2 separate regions of the Homo sapiens genome follow, and region 2 is linked to region 1. The links come from fine-mapping of genetic effects on gene expression. A gene starts in region 1. The other region holds a variant in brackets. All regions are shown on one strand. Distances are between the middles of the regions.

Region 1 (10,512 bases):
AGCTCTTATTAAAGTTACAATGTGGCAAATAGATGCCCTCATGGGTGTCACCACTGCTACATGCATGCATTGATTAATGTAAATTCACAACCGCTGGGGACTCGCACTCCCTATACCAGTGCCACAGGAGTCCCTCAATTGTTTTTATTGGTCATAATGGGGGCACCTCTAAATTTTATGTTCTTGATTTCCATCTCACTATTTGATCCTCTCCCTCCTGGTCAAATACCTGATTTGCTTCCTAGGAAAGCCCTCCTACTCTCAGTAAGTCTCAGACATCATCAAATTTTAAGTGGATAGAAAGGCATTGTATCATAAGGCTGAAAATTTCATGTGCTTGCTCCATGTGAAAGTTGAGGCTGCTTTGAGGCTCTTGGGGCCCCAGAGACCTAACCAGTAGTTCTGGGCTCTCACCAGATATACTCTGCACCCAGCTCCAAAGCCTTCCCACCTAGCTCTTTCTCTATCAGCCCTACCAGTTGCACTTAACTTTTGGATTTCACTGTCTAGTCAGCCAGCAAAATTATTCAATCAAACAATCACATCCTCCTGTGGGAAACAGGGAGCTTCCCCCCATCCTTTGGTAATTGCAGACCCTGGTTCCCATAGTCCCTGCTTTTTCACTTTGCTCCTGAGTTCCATCCCGGTGTGGCCCTGTGTGGCACACAGTTTCCTTCTCCCTTGGCTGGGAGGACATGTGACTAATAAACTGCTGTCAAACTTCCGTGTCAAGTGCCATGAGTCTGGCCATCCCTTTCCCCTAGGGTGGGAATCATTCCCTCACCAATGGAGAGAAGAGGAGGTGAATAAACTATTTGAAGTGTTCTAAGAAGAGAGGAAATATTGATAGGAAAGTTTGATCTAGAAGCAATGAGCATATATTGAAGTGTTTTTTAATGGGGTCTTGATGTGCTCAGTTTTACCTGCTGAAAAAATGCAGCAGAGTAGAAAATGAATTGGAGGGACAGACTGGAGTTAGAAAGTGAAAAGGTTGTTTCAATAATCCAGATGAGAAATGATGAGGCTTGCTCTAGCCTTTGGAAAAATGGAAGAGTCAAGAGACTCAAGATTCTGTAAGTGTTTGGAGTTGGAATTTACTGGGATTTGAGGGAAGTGAGGATGCAACAATGGCTCCCAGGTTTCTAACTTGAGCAGTAGTTATGTGATGATTCTGCTGATCCTTACAGAGAAGGTGGGAAAAGAAATTGATTTGAAGGAGAAGATTGTAACTGAAATCAAGGGAGAAGAGGCACTTTAGAAGAGAGGGGCTGTACAAACTATCTTTCTAATGCTGAACAGAGGCAAGTAAATCAAACAGGGACTAAACAAGCATTGTTTGGATTTGTCAATTAGTGGATCCTCATTGGATATCTTTGACAGAGCAGTTCCAGATCAGATTTAGGCTAATGGGCCTGAGAAATTTGAAGGGAGGTGAAGAAGTGTAGCCAATGGATGAAGACCACTACAGGGCACCATGCTGAAAAGAGAAGGGCTGAAATCGGGCATGACATCATTTTTCTTATTGTTTGAAAATGGAAGTTTGAACCTATTGAACCTATTCAATTCAATAGGTTCAATTAGAATTGAATTCTATTGAATTGAGTTCTATTGAATTGAATAGGTTCTAATTGAACCTATTAGTGGAATGAACACTATGTTTTAGTTGACAAAGAGATGTTAAAATACACAACAAACTGAAGAATGATGGGCTAGGATGCTTGAGGGGAGATCCAAACCCAGATCTAGAAGGCTAGTTATGTTGTGTGTAAGTGGCATGCTGTGTGTTCTGCTTAAACTCTGTGTGAGACTGGAATATGGAGTTATCAGAAAGCTGGAGAGAATTCTCCTTGAAAACAGAAGAGATGGTCTATCATTTAAAAGACTTGAGAATGGTAAAGTGCTGAATTGTAACTGTCATTGTGAAATATGCAGAAGGCTGAGGGGAACAGAAAAAAAGGTATCAGCTGTGTTGTTAAATAATACATTTGATGAGATCCTAACTGGGTCATTCCCCTTGGTGGCCAGGTATCAAAAAGAAAAGAAAACTTGAATTAATCAGGATTAACAAATTATAGGCAAGTGTAGAGGAAAGTCAGTAGGTTCAAGCAGTTGAACATGTTAATTAAGAGGAGAGTTGAAGTGTTGGCTCATGGAGTTCACCCTGATAGGACAAACATTTGGGAGTCCTCAGAGGTTAAAGTGTAGGGCATAAAGGGAGGGGTCTAAAAGGAAAAATAAAGTACGTGACTATCAAGCTTCAGAACAAAGTCCAGGGTGTGGTCATGGGAGTAGGCTGTTGAAGTGAAAAAGTAAAAAAAAAATAAAAAGTTTCTGTGTGTTTACATACTTTGGGGTGGAAAATTGAAGAGGATGAGTCAAAGTTGTCTTGAACTCTCACCTGATAAATCCGGTCACTGAAAGTCGAAACAACTGTAGAACATCATATATTCTAAAAAACTTTATAATTTAAGCAAAAAAAAATCATTTGTCCACTAGCTGAAACACTTTCAGTTGTAGAATTTGAAGCATTTGATGAAATTATGTAATAGAGAATGTTGTAGATAGGCCATTGGGTTAGACCACATTTTGAATCTTAGTATAATTTATTAGCTGTTTTATCCCTCGAAGCTTTATTTTTCTTATCTACAGAATGACAGAAATCATAGTACACACCTCATGAACTTGCTGTGATCATTGATATGGTATTAGCATATTGCTTAGCACATAGTAGCTGTCTGAATTAATTCTACCTCTTGTTATAACACAATCCATTATTTCTGCTGTTTGCAAATATGTTATTCATTTCCTACAATACAGTTTGCAATATTGTATTAGTTCTCTATGGCTGCTGTAACAAATTACCACAAATTTAGTGGCTTAATACCACACAAGTTTGTTCTCTTACAGTTCTGAGCTCAGAGGTTCAAAATCAGTCTCTCTGGGCTGAAGTCAAGGTGTTATCAGGGCTGATTTCTGGAGGCTCTAGAAAAAAAAAATGTTTCCTTGCCTTTGGTAGTTTCTAGAGACCACCAGACTCCTTGGCCCGTGGTCCCTTCCACTGTCTTCAACGCCATCTGTGTAGTGTCCCCACATTCTGTCACTGACTGTTTCTATCATCACATTGCCCCTCGAACTCCTGTCTCCCTCTTATAAAGGCCCTTCTGATGACCTTGGGCCCACCTGGATAATCCCGGGTAAGGGGTAATCTCCTCTTCTAAAGATTCTTATTTAATCTATTTTGCAAAGTTACTTTTGCTATGAAAGTTACTGTATTCATAGGTTCCAGGAATTAGGATTTTGGCCTCTTTTGGAGGGAGGAGTGCAGGGTATTATTCAGCCTACCCCAGGCAGGTACATCAGAGATCACAGTGAAGGAGACAGGAATATTGGCTGATTTAAGACCAATCATGTGTTAAATTCTAGAGTCTTTTATTTTCTTTCTTAATCTCATCACTAACAAACACGTGAATTTCTAAACAAATGAATAAACAAGTAATTGTCTGATGGATGTGAGAAATGTCCTCCTTCCCCATATCCCCCTCTTTTAACAACTTGACTCTCTAATTTTTCACAAGACAAAGTATCATTCACTACTCTCTCTGTTCTGTGTTCCCTGTGGAGCAGTGCCTGGACCTTGGCTCTTTCCTTTCCTTGTAGACAAAGCAGCCTGTGGCTTCTTATCATGCTGATTACCCAAATTCACTGCTGTCTTTCCTCCACACCCTCTTCTATTTCCAATATATGAATGCATATTTATAGCATTAATGAAATCAAGCATACGAGGGCACTGAAAGGAAAGGAGATGAGTATCGAAACCCACACTGCAAGTATCAACAGGCAAAAATTAAGAGAACATTTCATCAATTTGAGGCACAAATAAATGTGACCATTCTGCATTTTCAATTTATTTTTTAATGTTGATTCTTGGCCCATGAAAGTACCAATTACAGTTTATACAGAACAGTAATCATCAGCTTCTCATAACAGAAACTCAAAGTTCATGTATTGTTACATACTTTCTTTTTTCTTTTTGCATACAAGTAGAAGCAGCAAGATCTCCAATTTCATTGTGGGGTTTCAGATTCCACAGTGTCTTTTACATTTTATCAATTTCTAAATTCTAACTCTTCTTGATTTTATCTTGTTTAGATGTTACAAATTTTTCTGCCTCAATTTACTCTATATTTATGCCCAAATTCCAAAGCCCATTTTTATTGCCTTTGTCTCTCTCTTTTAAGGTTTTTTTTAGTTTCATTTTATTTTTAATTGACGCATAATAATTGTATATATTTTTGGGGTACAATGTGACGTTTCAATACATGTATACATTGTGTGATGATCAAATCAGGATAATTAGCCCATCTATTACCTCAAAACTTTACTATTTCTTTGTGATGAGAATATTCAAAATTCTCTCTTCTAGCTATTTTGAAATATGCATTATTGTTAACTATACACACCCTACTGCAGAATAGAATACCAGAACTGGTTCTTCCTAGCTATTGTAACTTCATACCTTTTAACTAACGTCTCGCCATGCTCCCCTTCTTAAGATTCTGATTGAAGGGAAGGATGCTAAACTTTCCACGAAAGTGCCTCGCCTAATTCGTGCTGAAGGGAAACTGAAACCTAAGTGCTTCTGAGAGGAGAAAGGAAACCGAAACTCCCGCCGGATGCATAAAAGACTGGCTGCGGTGGCTCAGAGCGCCGAGTCCTAGGCCAGGTCTGGGGTAACCTGGAACTTCCACCTGGGCTCTGCGCTAGGTCTCTGTTTCACTCCCTCCCCGCGGGGCGCGCAGCTCGCGGGTCTTTGGACACCACCGGTCCTGAGTCCGCGGTGAGGAGCCGGGGATGTCCCTTGGGAAGAGCCTGGGGCGGAGCTGTCTAGCGGGAGTTCTAGGTCTTCTTCAACGGACCGGACAGGGAGGTGGCCCAGGAGTGCTGGGCTCGGGGCGCGGGAATCTGGGGAACCTCCTGGGATCGCAAGGCCGTGGCGCACGGGCCCCCTGCTGGCCCGGAAGGCCGGGCGTGGGGAGGGGCGGAGGAAAGGGACAACCGCGAAAGGCCTGAAGTCTGAGACAGAGAGGAGTGCTTAGTTAGGCATTTAAGGAGTCCCCGTCAAAGGTGGGAGCTGGGTAATGGAGGTTGAGGAGAAATTAAGGGACATCATATCTAAGCACAGCCAGTAAAACCTGTACATTGACAGCAGCAAGAAGCTTCCACCTTCAATCCCTGCTCCAGACTTGTAGAATCAGAATCTGCGTTTATTAATAAGATTCCCCCAGGTAATTTCTGTGCACCCTTAAATTTCAGTGGCTTAAGACAATAGAAATTTATTTCCTACTCCAGTAACTTAATTTATTCCTGGTCAAGGGGCAGGTATAGTGGCTTAAAACATTACAAGTTTATTATTTTACAATTGCTGTGGATCAGAAGCCCAGGCATGGGTAAAGTGAGTTCTCTGTTCAGCATCTCATCGAGCTGAAATCAAGGTGTCAGAGCTGTGGCCTCATGGGACACCATGGATGCTCATTCAGGTTGTTGGAAGAATTCAGTTTCTTGCAGCTAAAGGACTGAGGTTACCTGCTTTCTTGCTGGCTGTTGGCTGGGGGTTCCCATGTCTTTAGATTTCACCCTGAGATCTTAGCTACAGTGGCCTTCTCACAACAAGGTGGCTTATACCGTTAAAGAAGGTATAGGGTACCTTTAAAGAAGGTATAAGCCTCTTTGGGGGAATCTCCCGAGTCTACTATGATGAAGTCTTACATAATATAACCGAATCATTAAAGAGACTATGCCATTAAATTCACAGGTCCTGTCCACACTCAAGGGGAGAGGGTTATACCGGGTACTGGAAGCCATTTTAACCCACCAGCTCTTCTCCAGGCAGGGTTTCAGGAGCTTGATGCCTTTCATCAAGTAGCTCCACCATTCTGTTCCAATACAGAATCCATGATTTCCTTTCCCTTCCCTTGCCCCCATTTTTTTCCTCTTTACCTCCCCTTTGCGCCTTTCCTCTTCCCTCCTTTTTTCTCTTTTCCATTTCTCTTCCTCCCTTCTTCTTTTCTTCTTCCTTTTTAAGATTGTTTGAATCAGAATATGGTTCTGACACTACTGTGATTGGAGGATAAGCCTTATAAGGTTCTTGCAATTTCTTTCATCCCCTTTTAATTTATTCGTTTGTAAGATTTGTGGTCTTATGATTGTTTGTTTTTGTATGTGTGTGTCCTGTTGGGTGTGTGTTTATGTGTGTGTGTGTGTATGTGTCCTAATCCCTGTGGTGTCATTTAACATATTTTGCTGGCCTCTAAATTTCTTGTAAATTAATCATTACTACTAGCGTTTTGATCAGATTCAGGTTTTCTTTTTTTTCTTCTTCTTCTTTTTTTTTTTTTTTTTTTGAGACGGAGTCTTGCTCTTTTGCCCAGGCTGGAATGCAGTGGCTTGATCTCAGTTCACTGCAACCTCTGCCTCCCAGGTTCAAGCGATTCTTCTACCTCAGCCTCCCAAGTAGCTGGGATTACAGGTGACTGTCACCATGCCCAGCTAATGTTTGCATTTTTAGTAGAGATGGGGTTTCACCATGTTGGCCAGTCTGGTCTCGAACTCCCGACCTCAGGTGATCTGCCCGCCTTGGCCTCCCAAGTTTTGGGTTTCTTTTTTTTTTGGCTGGGAGAACTACAATACTTCACTGATGGTGTGGACACTTGCCTCTATTTTTGTTGTGCTATCGTTTAAAAATACCAAGATCTGTTAATTCATTAGGAGTTGTAAAATGGTGATATTCTAATTCTATCATTCCTTCTGTGTTTATTAGCTGCATTATTTCTAGAAATGAATCACTCTTGTATCTACTCTTTGGTAATGCGATGGTGCAGTACTTAGAAGAAAAGCAGGATAATTTCTTGATTCCATAAACCATTATTTTTTTTCATATATTGTCTTCAGATGCTATTGCTGGACATCCTGCTGTGAAAGATGAAGAATTTAGCATTCATATTTATTTTTCTTTCATTCATCCCTTTGTGAACTGCCAAGTTGGTTAATTATATTATTATTTTCATACTGTCAAGGTTTATCATATTTTACAGCAGTTTGTGACTTTGATTCTTGTGATTTGTTTGTATGTTGAGTCAACAGTAAAAAAGAAGTAAACAGCAGTGACAAAATTATGAGTATGTACACATTACTCAGTGTAGAAGCAATCTAGGAATTGCTAGGCTAAGACATGTAGTTCTATGTTGTTAAAATTACTGTTTGAAATAGACTTTTGTAAATTCGAAGTACCATGGGTTCTCTTGTTTTTCTTTATAGCTTCCTTTAACTTTTCTAAATCACACAAAGTTTCATGGTTTTTTGATTGTCTTCATTCTTGATGGGTTTTCCCCAATTTTCTGTATTATCTCTTTAAATAAAATTATCATTTAAGATATATAGTTGGCATTTTGGAAGACAGCGTGGCCATTCCTCAAGGATCTAGAACCAGAAATACTATTCGACCCAGCAATCCCATTACTGGGTATATACCCAAAGGATTATAAATCATTCTACTGTAAAGACACATGCACATGTATGTTGATTGCAGCACTATTTACAATAGCAAAGACTTGGAACCAACCCAAATACCCATTAATGATAGGCTGGATAAAGAAAATGTGGCACATATACCCCATGGAACACTATGCAGCCATAAAAAAGAATGAGTTCGTGTCCTTTGCAGGGACATGAATAAAGCTGGAAGCCATCATTCTCAGCAAACTAACACAGGAACAGAAAACCAAACACCACATGTTCTCACTCATAAGTGGGAGTGGAACAATGAGAGCACATGGACACAGGGAGGGGAACCTCACACACTGGGGCTTGTCGGAGGGTTGGGGGCAAAGGGAGGGAGAGCATTAGGTCAAATACCTAATGCATGAGGTGCTTAAAACCTGGATGACGGGTTGATAGGTGCAGCAAACCACCATGGCACATGTATATCTATGTAACAAACCTGCATGTTCTGCACATGTATTTCAGAACTTAAAATAAAAAAAGGATATATGGTTGGTGAAATTTATGACTTCTTAGAAGTCTAATTACATCTTTTTGCCTCCTCCATGAATTGAATCACTATTTAGATGCAGAATTCTAAGTTCAAATTATTTTCCCTTTAGAAATCTGAAAGTGCTTTATTTTATCAAAACATCCAGGAATGTTGCTTATTTTAATTAATTCTGTGTGCCAGGTATTATTTTAATCAATTCGTATCCATCAGTTCATACATTTAAGTAGCTTGAAAACACAATCAGAGGTGAGTAATATTATTGTTCCAATTTTATAGATAAGTAAATTGAAACTCAGAGATGGTAAATACCTTGTCTAAGCTTATAGAACTATAGTATATTTCAGAACCAAGATTAAAATGCAAGTAGTCGGCCAACAGTGTTCATTTCTTAAACCAGTTCTCATATGGCCTGACTTCCATTTCTTTGTACCTTTTCTGTCTTTCTCTTTATTCTTGGAGCTCTGCAATTTTAACAAGTTGTGCCTAGGCGTAGTTTTCTCTTTTGTCATTATTTCTACTCAGTAGTTAGAGAAACATTTCAATCTAAACACATTATGTTGTTCTTTAGTTCTAGTCTAATATTAGTATATTAGTTTAAGTATATATCTTTGATTATTTTTATCCCCACTCATTTTGGAATCTTAGTTATCTCCTACTAGAAATATTAGTAGGGGGAGAAAGAGCTTATTGACTTATTCCTGGATATTTTAGTATTTTTAGAATTTTTTCATCTCTTTGTCTTTTACTTTTATCCTTTACAAAATTTCCTGGACTTTAACCCTACAGATCACTGACTAAAAATTCCAGCATGCTCATTTTATTGTTCTGCAATGACTTTCTTCCTTGTAAAATTATGTTTTAAATGTGTACGAATACTTGCATGCTTTCTTTTTCTCTTTCTCTCTCTCTAGCAGCCTGTTACTATTTTATGAGAAATATTTTTAATTCTTTGAAAGCAGTAATTAGAAAATTTTGAAGGTCTTTTCTGTCTCTGCATCATGCTTATTCATCTGGTTTCTTATTTTTGCTTTTTTTGTGTGCCTCAAATGTCTATTGGTACTAATTTGTGTGTGTGTGTGTGTGTGTGAGTGTTCAATCATTAGTTACTACAGGTGGCTGGATCTCTAGCATGTCTCTCCCTTAAATGACAGAGAAGTGGGGATAATGACTGTGAATTCTGTTTAGGTGTTAGGGCGTGCATGTGTTGGGGCAGAGGTTAATAGGGTAGCTCTAGTATAGGGTATATAAGAGGAAAGCCTAGGGTGTGTAAGCCTACTTTAGTATAGGGCATGTAAGAGGAAAGCCTATTAGGCTTTACACGCATTGTCTTGCATACCCTGTCCTATGTCATGCAGAGCAACCTGTAGGATCTCAAACTTCCCATAGGCAGGCTACGGAATCCCTTGATTGTCAAATTAAGGAGGGATTGCCCATTAACGCAGTTTTATTTTGTCACCATAGCTATTGCTGAAAGTTTCACAGTGTTTAACGGGCACTCACGTCTCAGTCATAGTTATATTTCATTATAAAAACTATATTATTCCTTTTAATCTATGTATATTATTTCTTAAAACAATTTCTAAGTTGTCAGGACATAAATAGTTATTAATTTGTTTGTATCTAACTACTTAATAAATGAAACGGTTAGCTATTGATTTTGTCCTAGGAGTGGCATAAAAAAATTCCTGAGACTCTAAGAGCATCGTGAACATCTGGGAACCTGTAAATTAACTTATTTCATCTTGTAGAATCTGATGCTATCCTTTCTGAAGTTTTCTGTAATATACTTGGGGTTAATTCTCTCTTGCCTGTTCAGTTCTCACTGACCCATTTTTTTCCATTTGAGCTTGGTACAATTTGGAGAGTTGAAGAAAGATAGTATGGCCAATGCACAGTTAGTGAGGTGGAGGATTGCATGAAATGGGTGACAGAGAGTTTTTTGAAAATACCTAATCTCCTGACCTGGGCACAAGACCCATTATAGTCTGGTTCTAACCTACCTTTCCAATGTCATCTCCAATGAGTCACCCTGTCCTATGCCATGTAGAACAACCCATAGGATCTCAAACTTGTCATGTAGTTTCACAACTTTATGCATTAAACTGATGCTGATTTTGCTACCTGAAAAGTAATTCTCTATATCTCTCACTTTCCCCAACATGCTTTCATAAGTCTTCATCATCTTTTCAACCTGTTCTTGAAACCTCAGAACACAGGACCCTGATCCCTTCATTCTGATTTAGGAACTCCCTCTCAATTCTCTAATGGCTTCCTGTGCCATTTCTGCTAGAACACAGCAAATTAGATGTAGTGTGTCACTTAGTTATCTTTCAACTTACACTGGGTTGTACAAGGAGAGAATCATGCTTCATGCATATTTGCATATGTTTCAGCAAGTACAATGTTTTGTAAAGTGTAGATACTCTATAATCTTTGAAATAAGATAGTAACTGAGTGAGTGA
Region 2 (10,512 bases), 61 kb before region 1:
TTTGATTGTTTTGGAGACAGGGTCTTGCTGTGTCATCTAGGCTGGAGTGCAGTGGTACAATCATGGTTTACTGCAGCCTTAATCACCTGGGCTCAAGTGATCTTCCCATCTCAGCATCCCAAGTAGCTGGGACTACAGGTGTACACCACCATGCCCAGCTAATTTTTATTTTATTTTTTTGTGTAGAGGTGAGGGCTCACTGTTGCCCAGGCTGGTCTCAAACTCCTGGGCTCAAGCAATCCACCCACTGTATTAGGGTTCTGTAGAGTGACAGAACTAATAGGATAGATATATGTATAAAGAAGAGTTTATTAAGTATTAACTCACATGATCACAAGGACCCATAATAGGCCATCTGCAAGCTGAGGAGCAAGGAAGCCAGTCTGAGTCCCAAAATGAAAGAACTTGGAGTCTGATGCTCAAGGGCAGGAAGTATCCAGCACAGGAGAAAGATGTAGTTTGGGAGACTAAGTCAGTCTAGCCTTTTCATTTTTTCTGCCTGCTTTATATTCTGGCCATGCTGGCAGCTGATTAGATGGTGCCCACCCACATTAAGGGTGGGTCTGCCTTTCCCAGCCCACTGAGTCAAATGTTAATCTCCTTTGGCAACACGCTCAAAGACACACCTAGGATCAATACTTTGAATGCTTCAATCCAATCAAGTTGACACTCAGTGTTAACCATCACACCTGCCTTGGCCTCCCAGAATGTTGAGATTACAGGTGTGAACCAGTGCACTTGGCCAAGAAACTTTTTATCTGAGGAATGTGAGTGCCCTTTAATTATCAGGCCCAGAGAGGCATTGGAGTGTGACAGGGTGTGACAGCAGTCATGTCTCACTCCCCTCGTGAGCTAAATAATTACCTCTTGAAGCCACTTCCTATGTGAACTCTAGGCTAACTGACATGAAGTAGCCATAAAACACCATACATTGGACACCATACCTCATTCCTTGTAGTTCAACAATGTATAGCCAATCACAAATCAATGTTATTTCTGTAAAACTGTGAGAACTCCTGTCAAAAAACTTTGTATCAGCCCACTTCTTGTCCCCTTTTGCCTTTAAAAATCTACTTGTAGCAAAGGCTGAGCAGAATACTTTTTGGGACAACTTGGAAGTGTGTCTGTCCCAGACAGCTGTCTTCAACCTTGGCCCAAATGAACTCTCTATATTAATTTTGCCCCAGTATTTTTCACGTCAACAGTAGCAATAGCTCTTCAGTTTCATCACTCTTTTAATGCTTTGCATTTTCTTGATTATTATATGTTTCTTCAGGACAGAAAAAAATAATTTTGTTTTACCACCAAAGACCATAAGGCATTAAGAATTACCAGGGTTATTTTAATGTGTGAAAAGCAATATAGTATAGTGGTTGAATATTGGCTATAGACTCATAAAGGTCTGGAATAGGTCCCTGGTTCAATTATTTACTGACTATTTAACTTTAATAAGGCAATTACATTTTCCTAAATCTCAGAACTGTCAGCTACAAAATGGCAATAACAACCACTATAAATTATAGTTAATGCAAGTCAAGGACTTCTTAGCATCATATTCGATGAGTAGTAAACACATAAATGCTAGCTATTATTGTTTGTAGTCTCAGGTCTTATGATTTTAGTTTTAGGTTTTTTTTGTTTTGCTTTAGTGTTCATTAAAGAGAAGAATGGGAAAAGCACTTGCTAACTTTTTCATTCTTTTTATATGTTGATTTTTACTTTTTCCTTTATAAAGGAAGTCAAGTATGAGTGAAAACTGATAATATAACTTGTTTTTGACTGTCTATATATTTTTTGTGGAAAAATAGATTTGCTTCTACCTTAAATTCTGTTATGTTGTCAGCATTTGCCACTTAATTAATTAGATCAATATGAAATTTTTACATTAAAGAATTATTAGAAGAATTATAAGTGAAATGAAAGATTGAATGTATTCTCAAATGTGTCACTCTTAATTCCAGATAAAAATGAGGAAAACAGTATTGCTGTATTAAAAATAAAAATTATATTTTAAATATAAAATAACCTGTTTATAAAAGTTTATTTGGAACCATAGAAAAGCTGAAAGAAGGAAAAATCACCCATACCTAGTTCCACTACTCACTTGATCTTAGCCAAAAGGCCAAGAAGCGATAGTTCCACTACTCAAAGGAAACTGCTTTATTATTTTGGTATATTTCTTCCAGTCTTTTCTACCTAAATGTGGGTAAGTGTTTGCTTTTTAAAGAATGGATGCAGTTATGTTGAACTAGATGTCAGAATTTGGTAAATTTGCCTGAGGTTTTCAATCAGAACAATTTTGGGGGATGTAACCCCATGTTGAGTAATATATAATTCACATTAAAATTTAAATTTAATAAAATATCATTGTAAGGTTACCAAGTTTTCCATATTCTTATATATTCATTATCATGGCCAGTTACGTCAGATTCCACTTGCCAAGACAAAGAGTCTTCCCAGAACCCTGTAATGAGTCAGGTGTGTGCCTTTTGATAGTCACAGAGAACAGCGACACCCAGTTCTATGTAAAAGTGGCCCCATTCTTGGTTTTGATTACTCTCCCAGGAAGAGAGAGTAGTACACTTTAAAGGTTTTTGTTATTGTTTTTCATATAATAACGTTTGTGAGGGTGGCATATTTTCTGGGCTCCTGCGTATTTGAGGAGATTTTTTCTTTTGTAGTAAGGACAATTTAACCTGGCATAAATTTTTTGGATTTGAGCCATTAGTCTTCAGAATTGTCGATGCTTCATTTTCTTTGGCATCTACTGTTGTGGAGATATAATCTGTGGCCCTACTGATTGCTGTTTTCTTGTAGGTCACTTGACTTTTTCTGCCCATGTATATGGATCCTTTTCTTTATTCTTATATGTTACTTTTTTAGGAGAAGTTTCTAGTTATAGTTTTTTTTTTTAAAAAAAATTGATAGTGTTTATCATATTCAGAACCTTTTCAATTTATCACATTCAAGTTGTTTTTGAAGAAGTATATTTATTAAATTAGATTTTTAATTTGATTTCTATTTTAATTGCTTTGGTTTCTTTATTAGAAAAAGTTTCACTGGCTGGGTATGGTGGCATATACCTGTAGTCCCAGCTATTTGGGAGGCTGAGGCAGGAGGATCACTTGAGTCCAGGAGTTTGAGGTTGCAGTGAGCTATGACCTACTGCACTCCAGCCTGTGATGGGAGGGAATGCTGCAAAGGTCTCTGAAATGTCTGTGAGGACTTTTCCAATTGTCTTGACTATCAGCATTTGCCTTCCTTTTAGTTATACAAATACATGCAGGCTGCTTGAATTCCTGCCCAGAAAATAGGCTTTTCTTTTCTGCCACATGGCTAGGCTGCATATTTTTCAGATTTATACTCTGCTTCCCTTTCAAATACAAGTTCTAGTTTCAGGTGATTTCTTTGCTAACACATATGCGCATAGGTTGATAGAAGCAGCCAGGCTACATCTTGAACACTTTGCTACTTAGAAATTTATTTCTGCCACATACCCTAAATCATCTCTTTCAAGTTCAAAGTTCTACAGTTCCCTAGAGCAGGAGCACAATGCAGCTAACCTCTTTGCTAACACTTAACAAAATTGACCTTTGCTCCAGTTCCCAATAAGTTCTTCATCTCCATCTGAGACCTCATTAGCCTGGACTTCATTGTCCATATTACTATTAGCATTTTGATCACAACAGTTTAACAAGTCTTTAGGATCCAAACTTTCCCTCATCTTCCTGTCTTCTTCTGAGCCCTCCACAAAATTCCAACCTCTGTCCACTATGCAGTTCCAAAATCGCTTCCACATTTTCAGATATCTTTATAGCAGTGCCCCACTCCTCAGTATCAACTTCCTGTATTAGTTCATTCTCACGCTGCTATACAGAGACACTTGAGACTGGGTAATTTATAAAGAAAAGACATTTTATTGGCTTATGGTTCTGCAGGCTGTACAGGAAGCATAAGTAGCTTCTGCTTCTGGGTAGGCCTCAGGAAACTTTCAATCATGTCAGAAAGTGAAGCAGAAGTAGGCCGTGTGTTACATGCATGGCTGGAGCAGGAGGAAGAGAGGTAGAGGGGAGGTGCTACACACTTTTAAACAACCAGATCTCATGATAACTCACTATCATGAGAACAGCACCAGAGGGGAAATTCACCTCCATGATCCAATCACCTCCAATCAGGCCCCACCTCCAACACTGGGGATTACAATTTGACATGAAATTTGGGTGATGACACAGATCCAAATATTTCCATTCTGTTGACTGCAATCTACCTAATTCCATTAGGTTTAATGGGATAACTCAAGATTCAGAACAATATAATTACTCTATTTACCTTTAGAATGGCCTAAGACAACTAATCTTGTAAGCCGGATTGGCTTTCATACTTCATTTTTTCAGGCCACTATTGGTCACCACTGTTTCAGGGATTTAGCAGATTATTTGCCAGTCTGGGTTATGTATAACAGTTCTGCTTTATATGATGTATTTAATTCAAGGAAGCATGTGCCATGTGAAGATACAATCAAAGAGATAATATGAAATCAAATGAAATTTACTTTCACGTAAGATCTGGTAACCTTATCTATATAGTATGTATGTGTACTATTTATTACATATCAGTATTTACAAATACTGTTTAAAACTAGATAAATTAAAGTACTCTTCTTTTATAGGTGTTGTCAGTGCTAAAGCATTCATTGCTGTCTTTTAAGAGACGAAGAGCCATGGAGACTTTGAAACTTTACTTTTTGTTTTCCTTGCAGCTCCTTATCAAAGAGGTATCATCGTGCTTTGGCTTTTTGTTCTCTGTAACTAGTACCGTGTAAACTTCTTTCTATGCTAAACCAACTGAAATTTCTATAATCTGCATTCAATGATAATGTTACTTATCATTTATTAATAAATGAAGTCAGGTAATATTTGTCAGTCACTCACACTGGTATTTTATGGTATTTGAGTACATGACAAGTTAAATCAACTTTTTGTTTCTCATTTTTAGGACTATTTAAATAAAAAGGGTAATCCAAAGAAATTTGCAGGACTTGCATCATATTTGCATGGTCATGAACCTTCAAATCTTGTTTTTGTAAATTTTCTCAAGAGAGGCCTTTTCCATAATCTCTGTAAGCCAGCCTGGAAAGGTAAGCTTGGGTTTTATACCTGTAGTCGAAAAATGGCAACATATTTATTGAATAGCCAAAACCGCAGATATGTTTTTCTCTTCTTCCTCCTTCTCATTTATTAAAGCAAATAAATACTAAGTATATGTTCAGATTTACAGATGCCAAAAAATTAGACACTAAAAGTCAACTGATATTTATTCTAATAAAGAGTATTTGAGGGCTACTTATATATTACTTAACTGATAAAGAATATTTGCAGAAGAGAAAACGGAGAAGCATAGAAAGACAATAAGTTTCTGATGGTCATATGATTTTAGTATGCTTCAGAGCCCAGTTAATTAAACCTAGCCACCTTTTAATGCCCACAGTATGGTGCTCATGCGTTATGGGGAGTGGAGAGTAGGTCAAGATGACCAGAACCTAGAGCTAGTGTTTAGAAGTGTTGGTAGGTAAGTTTGGAAGCTTTGTTTTGACAGGATTTGAAACACCCTAAAGAGCAGGCCAAGGAACCTGGATTTTTCAATTAGCCGTTGAGATACCCTCAAAGGTTTTTGAGTAAAGGAGGGAT[A/G]TGTTTATATTCATGCTTTGGAAAGGCTGATCACTCTCAAGATGGCCTGAAGAAAGGAGAGTGCAAGTCAGGAAACCAGTTAGTAAACATTCTGGGGTGGGAACTAGGGCGGGTATAGCAAGGATGGAAAAACAAGGCACAGAATATAAAATCTCCTGTCTTACCCAAAAAAATAAATGTGCACATAGTATTGCAAATATGGTCAATTTCTGAGGTATATATTTGCTAGAAAATTTTGCCTTCAACAAAAGGAAATGTACTATAAAAACAAATTTAGGCAGAAAATAAATGGAATCAACATTATTCTTATTTATAATAATGCTCTTTATTTCAATAGGCTCACAACAATTTTCCCAAGATGTGATGGAAAAGCTCGTGTTAGTATTGGCAAATTTGTTTGGAAGAAAATATATTCCAGCAAAATTCCAAAATGCTAATTTAAGTTTTTCTCAGTCAAAGGTAAAGTTTGTTATACTTACAATGATATAATAATGATAGTTATTAAATGTATGCTACTGGAAAGCATTCAGTACCTATAGGGTTAAATTAATATAAGCTACTCCATTTGTTTTAATAGTGTTGTCTTTTCATAATTAGAGTTCTATTTAATTTTTAGTTCAAACATCTTCCCCTGCTAATCTAACAAACAATTCTTATCCCTAAAGTTTTTTCACTTTATTGGAGCAAATTATGTAATTCAGTAGCAACAGAGATTACATACACAAATAGTCATTTAAATAGAATGACAGCCCTACTGCTGAACCTATAGTTCCATTGGGATTGTTTACAGCTAGGGATGGGAGTGCAGGGAAGGAATTACATTATGACCTCTAATGTCCTCTTCAGACAATATTGAGGTGGTCACCTAAGAAAGAATCCCCTAACTTAAGGGTTGAGAGACTGAAAGAAAAATTATTTTCTAAGTTTTTTTGTAACACTGTTTGTTTCCAATTTCTTATTTTTTTAAAGACACAACAACAAAATAATAACAAGCAAACAGAACCCAAGAAAATGTGCATTAGAACCTGGGAATGTAGAAGAAGCTTGTTTCTATCCAGTAACCCTAGTGAATAGAGAACAAAAAGGTAATTAGCATTAATCTAGGCTTTCTGACCTCACAATGCCTCTGGATATACCTCCAGACCTGAGCACCCAATTTTAGTTACTGACATATATCCACATTGCAAACCACTGGAACTGTTAATCATTTTCTTAAATGCATACACATTTTAAAGTATTTAAAAAGGAAACTTCATATTTACTACTACTGTAAATAGAAAGCCAGGATCTTTGATTTCAAAACTAAGGAAGCCATAAAAATAGATGCAGTTAACATGGTTCTCAGCTGAAGCTTCTCTCTCTTTGCTACAAAAAGAGATTATAAACTTTTAGAGAAACAATGGTGGTCTATTGCCTCTGGACTTTCTAGGGTTATCAGAAAGAATAGAAGAGGACTGGAAAGAAGATATTTTTATTTATTTATTTATTTATTTATTTATTTATTTATTTATTTATTTATTTGAGACAGAGTCTTGCTCACTCACCCAGGCTAGAGTGCAGTGGCGCAATCTCAGCTCACTGCAACTTCCACCTCCCAGGTTCAAGCCATTCTCCTGCCTCAGCCTCCCAAGTAGCTGGGATTACAGGCTTCGCCACCACGCTTGGCTAATTTTTTTGTATTTTTAGTACAGTTGAGGTTTCATCAGGTTGGCCAGGTTGGTTTTAAACTCCTGACCTCAAGTGATGCGCCCGCCTTGGCTTCCCAAAGTGGTGGGATTACAGGCATGAGCCACCATGCCCAGCCCACTTTTTATTTTTTAAAACTGATGTATAATTACTCAATGTTCTGTGTGTCACACTAAATCATCTCATGTACCTCTTATATTATGTACCATAATTTGGGATAACTGCTCTATATTAGTCAATTAGCAAAGATTTATTGAGCAATAAATATGTGTAAACTATAGCAAAAATCATGATTGGGAAACATAGTTGCTACCTTCCAAGAGCTTGCTCTCCTGATGGGGCTGTATAGCATACACATTCGAGAAGGTGGCAAACAACACAAGGTGTACATGGTAAGCAGCACGTGCTGCCCTAGAACGGTGTCCAGCAGTGGCACAATGGCAGGACATGGAAGGCATAGCAGTAAAGAGACCATATCACTTTGACCAGAGTGTAGAGCTGCACCTGTCAATTTATTCTTTTGTCTTGGTCCATCCACAGATGGAGCTGAGTCCGAAGTAGGCTTGTGGAAATTGTCATACTATCCACTGTAAGGAGTTGGTAGGGGCATTCTTTATTATGTCCACACGGTTGCCTTTTGTAAGAATCCCCCTGGAAAATTCTTACCTGATATTAGTGCTGAGAATAAATAGCTGTTTATCTCATAGACATTCTGAAATGTGTCATTCACACTTGCTCCTAGGAATCTTGGAATATAATTTGTGCCCCATTTTAGTCTCTTTCTTGTTTTTCTTTCCTTTTTACCAAATTTTGATTTATATGATCATATTGTATTATCTTTACCCTTATAAAATACCTCAATTATTGGAAAAGTACAGGTTATGAATAAATTAAGGAAAATATCAAATAAATAATAAAACCCATAATTGTAACAGAAGAAAACCAAGAACATTTCTAATGTCATAGCTATTTCTAACTCACACTAAAGAAACTTCTAGTCCTAATTCTGAAAGAATTTGTTTTTAAACATGAAATTTGGAAGCTGAGTTAGCTTGCAATACCAGCTACTTCTCTATCTACTACCTGTCAGGTTTGGAACAAGTTTACCTCTGTGAGGGTTAGCTCCCTCATGTACAAAATGTAGATGAAAATGTTTACTGCATAGGGTTGTTCTCAGGATTAACTGAGCTAACATATAACAAGTGCTTGGGGCAGCAAAGCACAGTGTTGGCACATAATCTGAACTCAATAAAGCATTGACGCTACTACTGCTACACTAACTTGTTACTTGCTCTCTAAATATGTCCCTCAAGTCTCTGAAATATACCTAAGTTTAAGATCAGTGTAGGACATGTTTCTATTAAATTGGTGGTTTTGGCTAAGTGGAGTCAAAATAACTTTTTTAAGGAAAGATACTTACATTTATAAATGTTGGTTGAAATCAAAAGGAAATTTTACCTTAATCTCACAGGTGAGTAAAGTAATCAAGGGTTTTGATGAATGAGCATCAATCTACAGAACTATGCTGCAATCTTATCACCAAGCAGTTTAATTTTTTAAATAAAAGTAAAGAGATCTTTCTGAAATGTATTTCGCCCATAGGTGATCCTTGCCGAACTCCCGGAGGATTTTAAAGCTGCTTTATATGAGTATAACCTGGCAGTAATGAAGGATTTTGCCTCCTTCCTGCTGATTGCTTCCAAGTCGGTGAACATGAAAAAAGAGCATCAACTCCCTTTGTCAAGAATCAGTAAGCAGATTTTAGTTCCATTCCGGAACAATTTAAAGAGTAAACAATCTTGGTTAAGAAAGCCTCTGGATATTGGATGCTTCAAAGCTGGTAAAGGAGCTTATTACAGGGCAGCTGTACTAACCCAAGTGTTTTATCCCCAGAAAACAATTTAGCCCATTGTAGGGTGTGATAATGGCTCTGTTTTCCAATTAAAAAAAAACTTTATAATTACCAAATATTAATTGGGCAATGGAGGAAAAAAAATAAAAGTCATTCATGAACCATTTTGATGGAAAGTTGCCTATCTGTTCAGGTTGGAAAACTGGATCAGAAAAAGTGACAGATGAAAAAGAAAACGGCATAATTTCTGGCATTTTTTTCCCCTGAGGGGCAGTTGCATAGTGGTTACAAATGTGAACACTGGCAGCAGAATGCCAAGGTCTAAATCCTGGCTCTGCTACTTATTAACCATGAGGTCTCATGCCAGTTACTTAATCTTTCTGTGTCTCATTTTTTTAATCTGTAAAATGAAATGACTAAAAATATTACCTAGCTTACAGAATTTTAGAGGATTAGGTATATTAATGTTTATAAGTTTCTTAAAACAGTGCATAGCACATAGTCAACATCGCGTAAGTCTATTCTACCCAACATGGTAGCCACCAGCTAGCTACGTGTCACTATTTAAATTAAGTTGATTAAAAATAAAACAATTGAAAAGTTAATTCTTTAGTCACTTTAGCTTTAGTCACGTTAACTTTCCAGTGCTAGTGGCTTCTACTTTGGACACAGTAGAGGTAGAATATTTCCATCATTACGGAAAGTTCTAGCAGACGTTGCAAATATCATTCTTTGCTTCAATTATTTGTTCTTGATTGAGGAGTAACTGGTATTGCAAAGTAACTAAGCTTCCAAATTTCAATTTTATAGCGGGAAACTTTTAGGGGAGAATAAATGGAAAGAAGCTAGACTAAGAGTAAAGAGTGGAGCCATAAAATGATTCCCATATTCCCCTGTCTCCTAATATAGTCATAGTTGGAGTAAAAGACAGGGAGGTAAGCATTGTAGCTACTCAAGATTTGTTGATGTAGGACACAGCATGAGCAAATGCAGACAATAATGGTGGAAGCAAGGAAAGTAGTGCAGAGAAAAGATGATGGGAGTGTGTGATTGTGTCGTGATGGGAAAAACGAGCCAGACCTGAGTGCATGACTTGGTGCCTTCCAAGTCCAGCGAGATGGTACTCGCTGGACAGAACCTCTGTTTTATCTCTTATGCCAGCTCCAAATCCACTGGTAGGAGCTGCCTGAACATCATGTCTAGGAGGTTTCTGAGGTTATATCTGAGTTCATAGGCAAAAATAACAGGTAATAAAAAAGAGTAATGATAATAAGTTAATAGTCAACA

What was found. PIP is the estimated chance that this variant, and not a neighbour inherited with it, causes the effect. A credible set is the group of variants that fine-mapping cannot tell apart.
Region 2: its variant is the best candidate, but not a certain one, in a credible set for the expression of DDX60 in whole blood (INTERVAL, PIP 0.62).

What each region holds. Positions count from the first base shown.
Region 1 is chr4:168,312,947-168,323,458 of GRCh38, reverse strand. It overlaps DDX60 (DExD/H-box helicase 60), which reads left to right and starts at 4,707. Exons shown (of 38, transcript NM_017631.6): 1 at 4,707-4,837. RefSeq lists an enhancer at 4,444-4,773.
Region 2 is chr4:168,373,988-168,384,499 of GRCh38, reverse strand. It overlaps DDX60L (DExD/H-box 60 like), which reads left to right. Exons shown (of 38, transcript NM_001012967.3): 31 at 4,670-4,774; 32 at 4,996-5,137; 33 at 6,025-6,146; 34 at 8,976-9,123. Among named protein-coding and RNA genes, the nearest start is that of DDX60, 60 kb to the right of the region's middle. RefSeq lists enhancers at 5,116-5,285, 7,749-7,918. The variant A/G (reference allele first, on the strand shown) is at 5,688.